Linked DNA regions of Homo sapiens: all the other regions are linked to region 3. The links come from fine-mapping of genetic effects on gene expression. A gene starts in region 3. Each other region holds a variant in brackets. All regions are shown on one strand. Distances are from middle to middle.

Evidence for each region. PIP is the estimated chance that this variant, and not a neighbour inherited with it, causes the effect.
Region 1: its variant is fine-mapped to the expression of GPRC5B in whole blood (INTERVAL, PIP above 0.99).
Region 2: its variant is fine-mapped to the expression of GPRC5B in whole blood (TOPMed, PIP above 0.99). The same link has a PIP of 0.9 or more in blood mononuclear cells.

The regions. Positions count from the first base shown.
Region 1 is chr16:19,739,438-19,742,281 of GRCh38, forward strand. The region is part of intron 4 of IQCK (IQ motif containing K); the gene reads left to right. Among named protein-coding and RNA genes, the nearest start is that of IQCK, 23 kb to the left of the region's middle. The variant C/T (reference allele first, on the strand shown) is at 1,147.
Region 2 is chr16:19,695,104-19,697,603 of GRCh38, forward strand. The region is part of intron 29 of VPS35L (VPS35 endosomal protein sorting factor like); the gene reads left to right. Among named protein-coding and RNA genes, the nearest start is that of KNOP1, 22 kb to the right of the region's middle. The variant G/A (reference allele first, on the strand shown) is at 1,425.
Region 3 is chr16:19,883,504-19,886,003 of GRCh38, forward strand. GPRC5B (G protein-coupled receptor class C group 5 member B) reads right to left here and starts at 1,345. Exons shown (of 4, transcript NM_016235.3): 1 at 1,224-1,345. RefSeq lists an enhancer at 1-88 and a silencer at 1,604-1,898.

The DNA of each region.
Region 1 (2,844 bases), 140 kb before region 3:
GTACTGATGATTAAATCCAGGTAATTGCTCTCCTGTCACCTGTGGTTTGAGTACTGGTATGATAATCATCAGAAATTATATCAAAAGTCAGAGAAGACCCAGTGTGGTGGCTCATGCCTATAATCCCAGCACCTTGGGAGGCTGAGGCGTGTGGATCACTGGAGCTTAGGAGTTTGAGACCACCCTGGGTAACATGCCAAAACCCCATCTCTACAAAAAATACGAAAATTAGCTGGGCATGGTGGCACATGCCTGTGGTTCCAGTTACTTGGGAGGCTGAGGTGGGAGAATCACTTGAACCCTGGAAGTTGAGTCTGCAGTGAACCATGATGGCGCCACTGCACTCCAGCTTGGTTGACAGAGTGAGACCCTGTCTCAAAAAAAAAAAGAGGAGCCCTCTCATTGATTTATTGCCCGTTGTGCGTCAGCACTGGCATCCTATGCACCATCTTGTTTCACCCTTACAATAACCTTCTGAACCAGATCTTCTTTTTCATCACCTCCCTTTTACCAAGGATGGCCCTGGGACACAGAGAAGTTGAGCATTACTCAAGGTCACCTAGTAAGCAACAGACAGCACACATCTCCAACCAAGGCCCAGATGATCCTGAAGCCTGGGTTTCCATCCCTCCTAGTAAATGGGAGTTGGAGGCTGTCCTCAAAATAGCTCCCAGAGATACTGATTTTTTTTCATTCATAGCTATTTTCTGAAGAACAGACTGCTTACTTGCCTTCAGTTATCAAATTTAAACGGCTTCTAATTCTTATCTGTTTTTTCATTTGCTCACTTGGCTTTTCCTGACAATTTAATTCTTGTCCACTACTCATAACTGACCTTCCCCCATCATCTGTGTTTTGACTACTGCTATGATCATCATCAGAAATTGTATCAAATTGTGGTGTGATACAGTTGGTAGGTATCCCGTGGTGTTAAACAGGTGCAAGGTGTGGCTGAATGGAAGGGGAGTGAGGCTGGGTTGAAGAGTGGTCCCAGAGCAGACCTTCAGCCTGGCCACACCATTGTCAGATGGCTTTGTCCCTCTGCCTTCTGTTCTGCTGCTAAGTGAGGAAGAGCACCTCACGAGTCACATTTCAGCAATTGTATCACTTTTTCCTATCTTGCTGTTGACCAAAGTATATTGAGTG[C/T]ACTGTGTCTTTTTATTCGATTGAACAAAGGATGGAATATAATGATCAAACAATGAAATGAGCACAGTGGAATAATCTTTGTTTTCATACATGTAAAGAATATCTGGCCGGGCACGGTGGGTCATGCCTGTAATGCCAGCCCTTTGGGAGGCTGAGGCATGTGGATCATGCAGTCAGGAGTTTGAGACCAGCCTGGCCAACATGGTGAAACCCCATCTCTACTAAAAATACAAAAATTAGCCGGGCGTGGTGGCAGGTGCCTGAGTCCCAGCTACTCGGGAGGCTGAGGCAGGAGAATGGCTTGAATCCGAGAGGCAGAGGTTGCAGTGAGCCAAGATCGTGCCACTGCACTCCAGCCTGGGCAACAGAGCGAGACTCCATCTAAAAAAAAAAAAAAAAAGAATATCTACAAGCAGGATGAAGCAGGATGAGTCGCCCATGTTTGGTTCTGTTCAACAAACATTCATTAAGCCCTGCTGTGTGCTGATCATGAGGCCAGACCCCAGGGCACACTGAGGGGACAAGAAGACATGGTCCTGTCCTAGAGGAGCCATAATGATGAACTAAAGTTGTTTTTATTTTTCTTCCCCTTGTGTCTGTTTTTTTCACTCCTCTGAAATAAGAATGAATAAGGAGAAATGGCTACAGTGGATCTGTAGCTGGGGATTCATTTCTAGACCTTGGTGCATGTATATTCCATTGTGCAACCTTTATTCTAATTTACTTGGCCATTATTCTTCTAATTTATACCCTTTCAGAGGGCACAAAAATCAGCTAAAAGGGCAGTAATTAAGATTTTACATGAAGGTTGCATATCTAATATTTGACCATAAATAATTTTGTAACAAGGGGGCTAGAAACAGTTTCCAGCCTGTAAGCAGTGATAAAATGCTTTGAAAGAACCAGATAAATTTCTAATTATATTAGAGATTAATGAGGCATCCTTGTGCCAACTCATATTTCATTGTTGACATCCTACAGATGAGCTACTCCTGAGACTAAATGAAAACAGTCTAGATGTCAGATGCTCCAGGGTGCTTGAACAGAGCATTAAAGTTTAAATTGTATAATGAATGATAAAGCAATGTAGAAAATGTGGGTTGTTAAAACTGTTCATATGTGGCCAGGCATGGTGGTTCATGCCTGTAATCCCACCACTTAGAGAGGCCGAGGCGGGAGGATTGCTTGAACCCAGGAGTTCGAGACCAGCCTGGGCAACATGGTGAAATCCCGTCTCTACTAAAAATACCAAAATTAGCCAGGTGTGGTTGCAGGCACCTGTAATTTCAGCTACTTGGGAGGCTGAGTCAGGAGACTTGCTTGAACCTGGGAGGCAGAGCTTGCAGTGAGCCAAGATCTCATCACTGCAGTCCAACCTGGGTGACAGAGTGAGACTGAGTCTCAAAAACAACAAAAACAACAACAAACTTGTTCACTTATAAGAGTGGAGAAGCTTGAAAGGCAGGCACACGGGAGTTCAAAATCCTGCTAGACTGCTTCCTTGCAGCATGGCCCTAAGTAATCCGTGAGCCTCAGTTTCCTCAACTATTGAAAGGACAGCAGACCTGCTCCTGTCATTGGGCGGAAGAGGGGAAGTAATGAATGATACTTCCAGACCCAAGGAATGTTAACTTCCTCCTCCTCTGCTTCTCACGCTTTGCCAGGAAGTTCAGTATTTTGAATGCTACAAATACGCAA
Region 2 (2,500 bases), 190 kb before region 3:
GCCTTCCCCTGATTTCTTGAAACCATTGGTTCTGGCTCCGCCCTCTAGTCCAGGGACCTCTTAGAACAATGATGTGTGTTTGACAAGCCACACCCACAGAACACTTGACATGTGGTTCAAAATTACGTGTCTTCATACCGAGGCAATAGGCTGGGTTTAATCAGAGGTGGTCACTGACAGCATAAATGATCATAGCCCAGAAGTCCCAAGCTTGCAAGAAAAATAAAGCCCAGAACCATATAATTTGGAGCTATTTATATTTAACATTTATGTCTCTTTCTCTGGTGGAGAGAGGGGTTGATGGTGATAGTGATTCTGAAAGAATAGCAAAGATGGAATGTTTCTGAAGAACATTTCACGTGGCATCAATACCAGCGATGTTCACTGAAAATGTCTGTCCATATGTGCACATTTATTAGAAAAACATCGGTCAGGCATGGTGGCTCATGCCTGTAATCCCAACACTTTGGGAGGCTGGGGAAGGAGGATTGCTTTATTCCAGGAGTTTGAGACCAGCCTGGGGAACATAGTAAAACCCCATCTCTAAAAAAATTTTAAAAGTTAGCCAGGCATGGTGGTGTGCACCCTGAGTAGCTGGGACTACTCAGGAGGCTGAGGTGGGAGGATCGCTTGAGCCCAGGAGTTTGAGGCTGCAGTGAGCTGTGATTGCACCACTACACTCCAACCCTGGCAGCAGAGCAAGACCCTGTCTCTAAAATAAATAAATAAATAAAAACATGGTCATATGGGTGGACCAAGCTGAAACTGAACATGTTATCCTTCTTTTATTTTATTTTTTTTTTGAGACAGTCTTGCTCTGTTGCCCAGACTGGAGTGTAGTGGCACAATTTCAGCTGACTGCAACCTCCACCTCCCAGATTCAAGTGATTCTCCTGCCTCAGGCTTCCGAGTAGCTGGGACTACAGGCGCGTGCCACCACACCTAGCTAATTTTTTGTATTTCTAGTAGAGACGGGGTTTCACTGTTAGCCAGGATGGTCTCGATCTCCTGACCTCATGATGCGCCCGCCTCAGCTTCCCAAAGTACTGGGATTACAGGCATAAGCCACCGTGCCCGGCTATCCTTTGTTTTAATGGTGCAATTTGAAGTTCAGCTCAACAGCCATACTGGAGTCCTCTGAAGTCTGGTACCCCAAGAGCATGAGGCTTGGTATCCAGGCCCATCACAGACCAGGAAGGGCCTGGTGGATTTCTCCCCACTGAGTGGGGTGGGCGGCTTCTTGCTGTTGGAAAACCCTGATGCCTGTGCCGTTCTGAGAATCATATCGCAGCTCTGGTAGCAACCGTGCTTCCAAAGTCATCCTCTAAGGCCACGTGAAGGTGCCAGCCTCATTTTAATCACAAGCTGTATTTTATGAAGTTGTTTGTTTGGGTGTGGTGGAGCTGGGAACCATGCCAAACCCC[G/A]AGAGCTTCCTGGAAATGACAGTTCTCATAGGAAAAGCAGCTCTTTTCTATTTAAAACCTCTGTGGCGAGGGGAGGGGATCAGGCCCTGATTTGGTTCCCAAGCTACGTGTTTGTATTTTTCTCGGTGTTTGAATATATCAGCTGGCATGTGTCTCATCCCTCAGACACGTCTCCAATGATTTCACTTTTAATGGGCTTTGGCATTTAAAACACATGCGAATTGAGCTTTTTGCTAATTGAGAAGATATGGAATGGAGAAATAGCCAATTAGGTATTGTGCTGCTTGTCTGACTTTTAAAACAGTTTCTCCCACTTCAGTGAAAGGTAGTCAAAGGGCCTCTCTCCAAGGAGACTTTTAGTTAGCTCTGAAAGAGTTTTATTTTAGCTTGGTCTTGTAGATTCAGGCAGAAAGTGGGGCTCCCGTTCTCCCAGGTGTCAGACGAGGACCAGGTTAAAAGGAGAGCAGGATGGGCTCAGGTTCCCACTTGGGGCATAACTGCATTGTCTGTTAGAACAAATGAAGGCAGAGCAGGTGGTCGCCAGCCAGTTTGCGAGTCCGTGCCCAGCAGGTGCCAGCCCGCGTGCCCTGTGCCAAAGCGCTTTTCTCTTGTAGCCCGCGGGCCTGGGCGCCCACAGCACAACCTGCTCCCTGATGATTGGGCTCTTTGCCGTCGGCTCTGCTGCTTCTGTGACTGTCGCTGCTCTAGGCTGTTGCCAAGGCAGGCTCAATTTTGCCCGGAGTGGGGAGGGGAGGTGCCGAAGAGTCTTAATTACCACTCAGCCACCTTGCCCAACTGCATTTGAAGCTGTTCCTTGACTTTTTCTTTAAGACAGGGTCTTGCTCTGATGCCCAGGCTTGAGTGCGGTGAGATCATAGCTCACTGCAGCCTCAAACTCTTGCCCTCAAGTGATCCTCCAGCCTCAGCCTCCTGAGTAGCTGGGACAATAGGTGTGTGCTACCATGCTCAGCTAATTTTTTTTTTCTTTTCACTAAAAGACTTTAAATTCTCACTTGGGAAAGGACAGTAAGAAGGGGTAAATCAGTTGGCATAGCAGCTCGCAGGCGCCATGTGAA
Region 3 (2,500 bases):
AACTTCTGAATTAAGAAGGTTCCTTGGCTGAAGTGCCGGGGTTTTTGTGCCAGATCCCTCCCCCACTTCTCTTGTCTTTGCGGGGTCCCCCAGGGCTTTCTGGGCTCTGTTCAGGTGCCCCCCGGCCTGGTGCAGTTGGGCGGCCAATGTGGCGCGTGGGCTGGGGCCCCAGGCGGGGACGCCGCTGCCCGCCACACTCCAGGGGCCTTTGTCCGCGCTCCAAGGAGCCGCCCCCTTAGCGAACGGGGGACGGAAAGGGAGGACTGGCTAGGCCTGGGTGTGACAGAGCAAGGACGGAGGAGTGAACCCGCTGCACGGGGGAGATTTCTGGGGCAAGGTCGTTGGCCCCTTCCCAGGCTGTTCAACCGGCTGCCCGGGGCCAAGGCGGGTGCGGGCTCCTCCCGCGCGCTCCCTTTTCGGCCTAAGCGCTAGGGACCCCGGGATGTGTGGGGTCCTTGTGGGGCTGGAAGCCTGTGTCCCCCAAGGAGAGGGGACCGAGAACAGGTCTAGTCCTTATCTCCAGCCTAGCCGCCTCTTCCAGAGGTCCAAGTGCCCCCTGTCTGGAAGGGAAACGCCACTGCCCCCCCCGCCATTGTATGCAGCCGCCCCCTCCTCCCCACCCCTCCCCGTCATTCGTCCCCAGCCCAGGTCTCAGCTCTGCCATCTCCCACCGCCGTGTCCCCCCCTCCCCTTGCTGAGTAATGCGCACTCAAGCCGGCTGCGGGCTTGACCCCCAGCCCCCGCGACAGGTGCGGCTGTTCACCCCCAAAGTCCAGCCCTTGTGCCCCCGGCTGCGTCTGCCCTGTCCACAGTCAGCCCCCAACGCGGCCCCAGGACCAGCCCGCAGCTCCTCACACATGACGAGTCACTAGGACACGGCTGGGCTCCTTTACCCTCCCAGCTGCCCTTCACCTGTGGTCGCCCCCACACCCTCCTGGGAGACTTGGATCTCTACCTGGTCCGGGCACAGTCTCCCTCCCCCCGTAAAGGTCCCCAGATCCTCCCCTCCCCCGCCCACCCCTCTACGGCTCTGCTCTCGTCGCACCGTGGTTCCCCTCGCCCAGATTCCACATCTCCCCCAGCAATAAACTCCCTGGCTTGGGTTGGGGGGGCGCTTAGAAAAACACAAGAAGCGGACCCCCCAATTCTCCCAAATCCACGGCGGGAAAAGTTTCTGGGGTCCCCACAGCGTCCTCCACTGCATCGGCGCAGCTCGCACTTACCGACCCCCGCGGCCCCGCAGCGCCGACGCTCCAGCTGGCCTTCGGCCCGAGTCACATCTCTGCGGCGCGGCCGCGGCCCCCGCTCCACGCACGCCCGCCTGCGGGTCCAGCTTCACTGCAGCGCCTGCCAGAGTCGCTGCCGCGCGAGGCGCCCCCTGGCCCGGCCCGCGCTGCTGCAGCGGCCGCGGCCCCGCCCCCGCCCCCGCCCCCGGCCGGCCCCGCCCCCGGGCCTCCGAGCCCCACCCCCGGTCCCGCCGGCGGTTCCGCGCGGGGCTAGGCGCCGTCTGCATGCACCCCCGGAGCCCAAGCTCGTAGCTTCTAGCCCGGATCTCAGAGACGATTCCCCCGACCTCGTGCCCCCAATTCGGGGACATTCCCCCCACAACGTCAGTGCGCCCGTAAGCAGTCCAGACGAGCCGGGCAACTCCCCAGGGTAGATCCATTTGCGGGAACACTCCCCTAGCCAATACACTTACCGAGGGAGGTATCGCGACCCAGGGGTCCCAGCGCGGAAGCCTTCCTGCCCCCAGGCCACGCTCCAAGGGGGGTTCATAAGCAGTAACTTCCCCGAAACACACCAGCACCAGGTCCAGGACGCAGAGAGGATCGATCCCGCCCGGTGCCTCTCGAAGTCACCAACGCCCCGGTATACACCTAGGCGCACACACACCGCTAGGCCTCCTCCAGGCAGGTTCCTCCTGGACACACTCTTCTCTCTCCTCACTGCCCAACTCCCAGATGTCGTTGTCCGTTTACGCACACTGGGACCAACACCCGCTTCCTTGGCCCCTCGAAACACACACGTCCAGTCGGTGCACCCCTCACGTGGGTCCCTACGCAGGATCGCCACCACCCCTACCGCACACATCACCCACGTACGCACATGTCCACTGCCCTTCAGGGCTCACACACTCAGCGGCCCGGGCCACTGGCCGTGCGCTCCGCAGACGGTCAGGGCACAGCCCGGACGCGTGTCCGCTGGGCGGCCGTGGGACCTGCTTGAAGGAGGGGTCCGGGGCAGCCGTCTCTGAGTCCCCCTCACCCCGTCCTAGTCCTCAGGCCTCTCCGAGGTCGCATTGCTTCGACCAGGCCTGGGAGCTGCGCTCCGGCACCCCATATGGGGCTGGTTCCCTGGGTGACCTTCAGACCATCAAACCCTGGCAGTCTCAGGTGGCCCCCCGCCAAAGCCAGAAACAGACCTTTGAGCAGCATCCCTTCCCTGCACTCCAGATTCTCAGGGTGAGATTTCCTTTCTCCCTCCGCGGTGCGCCCCCCAA